2 separate regions of the Homo sapiens genome follow, and region 1 is linked to region 2. A link means that fine-mapping ties the variant in region 2 to the expression of a gene that starts in the linked region. Tissue or cell type: neural progenitor cells. Region 2 holds a variant in brackets; the other region holds the start of a gene. All regions are shown on one strand. Distances are from middle to middle. Region 1 holds the start of NOPCHAP1 (NOP protein chaperone 1). Region 2 overlaps NOPCHAP1 (NOP protein chaperone 1).

Region 1 (2,500 bases), 23 kb after region 2:
ATCCATTGAATGCCTACTACTTAAGGCCTACTGGATTCGTGATCAGAGCACAGAGTCTGGAGCCAGACTACTTGAATTCAAGTCCCAGTTTTGCTACTTTCTAGCCACATGATCTCCAGAAGGTAAATTACCTGTATGATAAATCATGTCTCAGGTTCCTCAACTATAAAACAGAGATAACAGATTTTCTGCAAAGGGTTGTTGTGAGGATTAGATGAGTTAGTTTCTGGGGCATACATAGTAAGGACTACATAAGCTTTGGTTATCATTATTATACTTCCTTCGGAATCTCTGGGTTCTCACAAAACCTTTTCTTCAAGCTAGTATTTACTGACAACATGCCCAAGCCTTTTTAGGCATTCTCCTCCTCACAAAAATTCTACAGGCATTACTACTATCACCATTTTCCAAATGCAAAAACTGAGGCTTAGGGAATGAAAATAACTCTAAGTCCCACCAGTTAATTACTAGTGGAGCTGGGATTCGAACTCGTGCTTTTAAATTCTACCTATAGTGTCTGAAATGCTGTGTGGATTTCCTGGATGCATGTCTCCCTCTACAAGACAGCAGCACTAAGGGGTGGTCTGTGTGGGTGTGAAAGAGGTAGGGACTGTTAGCATAATATTACTCCGCTTCCCCCTATCAGCCAACTGCTCCGACCCAGGCAGCCAAACCAAAAGCCCTCCCTTCCCCAAAAGAACTCGAGAGCTTCCCAGCTTCCAGGGCAGGGCAGATGCCTGGCAGCGGCGCCTGGCAGGGTGGGCGCTCACTACCTTGCAGAATATAAGAACCACTAGCTGGGGAAACCATTCCGGGCCCGCAGCCGGGTGCCCGCCCCAAAGCCCCCACCCCTGCCGCGGGCAGGGCACGCCGGAGCCCCGCAGCAGTCCCCGGGGCTCCCCTCGAGGGTACGGAGCCCGGGCAGGGAGCCACCGGCCGGCTCCCAAACTGCACCGGCCGCGCCTCCTCTGCCGCACGTGTGCGGCCCATGCCGCCGTCACCCGTCCGTCACCTCCGCGGCCGTCGCTTCCCGCCGTCAGCAGCTCCTTGGACACTGGGACTCCTGAGGAATCCCGGGTGGGCGACGAACAACTCGGGCTAGCCTTGGGCTTGCCATGGACCTCCATGCTTCCCTCAAGCCTGCACTCTCAGGCCCGGATGCAGGAAAAAGGCTCGGGTAAGGGGGCGGGGAGAGGGCCGCGATTGGAGGAAACTGCGGTGGGCGGAGTAAGGAGCGGAGAGAGAGGCGGGGCGAGCGTGGTGCAGCCTGGAGGCTGCGCGGGAGCAGGGGCCATTCCTACTCCTGGGAAAAAGAAAGGTTCAGACACTGTCATAGGAAAAAACAGCGGGCAAGGCTCGATTTCGCCAAATTCGGGCATAAAGAGCATAACATTAGGCTTCCCTCCTCTTTATCCTTTTTTATTAAATTTTTTTTTAATTGGTGAAAAAACACGTAACAAAATCTACCATCTTAACCATTTTTAGTTGTACAATTCAGTGGTGGCAGACCTCTAGATCATTTTCATCTTGCAAAACTGAAACCTTATACCCATTTACCCCTACTCCAGTCCCTTGGTAACCACCATTCTACTTTCTTCTTTGTTTCTTTCTTTTTGAAACAGCCTTGCTCTGTCGCCCAGGCTGGTGCCTCAGCCTCCCAAGTAGCTAAGATTACAGGTGCACACTACCACGCCCGGCTAATTTTTGTATTTTTGTATAGAGACGGGTTTTCACCATGTTGGCCGGGCTGATCTTGATTTCCTGACCTCGGGAGATCCACCCACCTTGGCCTCCCAAAGTGCTGGGATTACAGGCGTGAGCCATCATGCCCAGCTACCATCGTTCTACTTTCTGTTACTATGAGCTTGACTACTTCAGATACATTATGTAGGTGGAATCATACAGTACTTGCCTTTTTGTTACTAATTTCACTTAAAATAATACCCTCAAGGTTTAGACATGTTGTAGCACATAACAGGATTCTCTTCTTTTTTAAGCCTGAATAATATGCCATTGTATGTATATACCACATTTTCTTACCATTGATCTCTCAACAGGCGTGCTGGTTGCTTCCACCTCGTGGTCATTGTGAACGCTGCTGCAATGAACATGGTGGTACAAATATCTCTTAGAGACCCTGCTTTTCAATGCTTTGGGATACATACCCAGACATGGGATTACTGGATAATAGGGTAATTCTACTTTTTAGGTTTTTGTGAAGCCTCCGTATAGTTTTTCATAGTGGCTGCACCATTTTACATTCCCACAGTGCACAAGAGTTCCAATTTCTCCACATCCTTGTCAATATTTCCTTTTTCTGTTTGGTTGCTTCTTTCTTTTTGACAGTGAGCATCCCAGTGAGTGTGAAGTGATATCTTGAAGTTTTGGTTTGCATTTCTCTAATGATTTAGTGATGCTGAACACCTTTTCATGGGCTTGTTGGCCATTTATATATCTTCTTTGGAGAAATGACTATTCAACTCCTTTACCCATTTTTTAA
Region 2 (3,020 bases):
AATGCACAACTATGTGGAAACTGAACAACCTGCTCCTGAATGACTACTGGGTAAATAACGAAGTTTAGGCAGAAATAAATAAATTATTTGAAACCAATGAGAACAAAGACACAACATACCAGAATCTCTGGGACACAGCTAAAGCAGTGTTTAGAGGGAAATTTATAGCACTAAATGCCCACAGGAGAAAGCGGGAAAGATCTAAAATCGATACTCTAACATCACAATTAAAAGAACCAGAGAAGCGAGAGCAAGCAAATTCAAAAGCTAGCAGAAGACAAGAAATAACTAAGATCAGAGCAGAACTGAAGGAGATAGAGACACAAAAAACCCTTCAAAAAATCCACGAATCCAGGAGCTGGTTTTTTGAGAAGATTAACAAAATAGATAGACCACAAGCCCAATTAATAAAGAAGAAAAGAGAGAAGAATCAAACAGACACAATAAAAAATGATAAAGGGGATATCATCACTGATCCCACAGAAATACAAACCACCATCAGAGAATACTATAAACAACTCTATACAAATAACTATAAACACCTCTAGAAAATCTAGAAGAAATGGATAAATTCCTGGACACATACACTCTCCCAAGATTAAACCAGGAAAACGTTGAATCCCTGAATAGACCAATAACAAGTTCTGAAATTGAGGCAGTAACTAATAGACTACTAACCAAAAAAAGCCCAGGACCTGAAGGATTCACAGCAGAATTCTATCAGAGATACAAAAAGGAGCTGGTACCATTCCTTCTGAAACTATTCCCAACAATAGAAAAAGAGGGACTCCTCCCTAATTCATTTTATGACACCAGCATCATCGTGATACCAAAACCTGGCAAAGACACAACAAAAAAAGAAAATTTCAAGCCAATATCCCTGATGAACATCAATGCAAAAATCCTCAATAAAATACCAGCAAACTGAATCCAGCAGCACATCAAAAAGCTTATCCACCACAATCAAGTCAGCTTCATCCCTGGGATGCAAGGCTGGTTCAACATACACAAATCAATAAACATAATCCATCACATAAACAGAACCAATGACAAAAAGCACATGATTATTTCAATAGATACAGAAAAGGCCTTTGATAAAATTCAACACCCCTTCATGCTAAAAACTCTCAATAAACTAGGTACTGATGGAACATATTTCAAAACAATAGGAGCTTTTTATGACAAACCCACAGCCAATATCATACTGAACGGGCAAAAGCTGGAAGCATTCCCTTTGAAAACCAGCACAAAACAAGGATGCCCTCTCTCACCACTCCTATTCAACATAGTATTGGAAGTTCTGGTCAGGGCAAGCAGGCAAGAGAAAGAAATAAAGGGTATAAAAATAGGAAGAGAGGAAGTCAAATTGTCCCTGTTTGCAGATGACATGATATTTAGAAAACCCCATCATCTTAGCCCAAAAACTCCTTAAGCTGATAAGCAATTTCAGCAAAAGTCTCAGGATACAAAATCAATGTGCAAAAAATCACAAGCATTCCTATATACCAATAACAGAGAGCCAAATCATGAGTGAACTACCATTCACAATTGCTACAAAGATAATAAAATACCTAGGAATCCAACTTACTAGGGATGTGAAGGACCTCTTCAAGGAGAACTTGCTCAAAGAAATCAGAGAGGACACAAACAAATGGAAAAACATTCCATGCTCATGGATAGGAAGAATCAATATCGTGAAAATGGCCATACTGCCTAAAGTAATTTATAGATTCAATGCTATCCCCATCAAGCTACCA[T/C]TGACTTTCTTCACAGAATTAGAAAAAACTACTTTAAATTTCATATGAAACCCAAAAAGAGCCCATATAGCCAAGACAATCCTAAGCAAAAAGAACAAAGCTGGAGGAATCACGCTACCTGACTTCAAACTATACTACAAGGCTATAGTAACCAAAACAGCACAGTACTGGCACCAAAAGAGATATACAGGCCAACAGAACAGAACAGAGGCCTCAGAAATAATACCACACATCTACAACCATCTGATCTTTGAAAAACTTGACAAAAACAAGCAATGGAGAAAAGATTCCCTATTTAATAAATGGTGTTGGGTAAACTGGCTAGCCATATGCAGAAAACTGAAACTGGACCCCTTTCTTACACCTTATACAAAAATTAACTCACGATGGATTAAAGACTTAAATGTAAGATCTAAAACCATAAAAACCCTAGAAGAAAACCTAGGCAATACCATTTAGGACACAGACATTGGCAGAGACTTCATGACTAAACACCAAAAGCAATGTCAACAAAAGCTAAAATAGACAAATGGGATCTAATTAAACTAAAGAGCTTCTGCACAGCAAAATAAACTATCATCAGAGTGAACCAGCAACCTATAGAATGGGAGAAAGTTTTTGCAATGTATCCATCTGACAAAGAGCTAATATCCATAATCTACAAAGAACTTAAACAAATTTACGAGAAAAAAACAACCCCATCAAAAAGTGGGCGAAGGATACGAACAGACACTTCTCAAAAGAAGACATTTATGCGGCCAACAAACATGAAAAAAGCTCATCATCACTGGTTATTAGAGAAATGCAAATCAAAACCACAATGAGTTACCAGTTAGAATGGCGATCATTAAAAAGTCAGGAAACAACAGATGCTGGAGGGGATGTGGAGAAACAGGAACACTTTTCACTGTTGGTGGGATTGTAAATTAGTTCAACCATTGTGGAAGACAGTGTGGCAATTCCTCAAGGATCTAGAACTAGAAATACCATTTAACCCAGCAATCCCATTACTGGGTATATATCCAAAGGATTATAAATCATTCTACTATAAAGACACATGTATGTTTACTGCAGCACTGCTCACAATAGCAAAGACTTGGAACCAACCCAAATGCCCATCAGTGATAGACTAGATAAAGAAAATGTGGCATATGTACACCATGGAATACTATGTAGCCATAAAAAAGGATGAGTTCATGTCCTTTGCAGGGACAGGGATGAAGCAGGAAACCATCATTCTCAGCAAACTAACACAGGAACAGA

The links. PIP is the estimated chance that this variant, and not a neighbour inherited with it, causes the effect.
Region 1: it holds the start of NOPCHAP1, and the variant in region 2 is the best candidate, but not a certain one, in a credible set for the expression of NOPCHAP1 in neural progenitor cells (Aygun 2021, PIP 0.60).

What each region holds. Positions count from the first base shown.
Region 1 is chr12:104,984,980-104,987,479 of GRCh38, reverse strand. NOPCHAP1 (NOP protein chaperone 1) reads right to left here and starts at 1,164. Exons shown (of 4, transcript NM_152318.3): 1 at 1,013-1,164. The coding sequence starts at 1,127. LOC105369952 (a long non-coding RNA gene) reads left to right here and starts at 1,110. Exons shown (of 2, transcript XR_007063436.1): 1 at 1,110-1,177. RefSeq lists a silencer at 685-934 and enhancers at 487-997, 998-1,510.
Region 2 is chr12:105,007,765-105,010,784 of GRCh38, reverse strand. NOPCHAP1 (NOP protein chaperone 1) reads right to left here. Exons shown (of 4, transcript NM_152318.3): 4 at 1-3,020. Among named protein-coding and RNA genes, the nearest start is that of NOPCHAP1, 23 kb to the right of the region's middle. The variant T/C (reference allele first, on the strand shown) is at 1,758.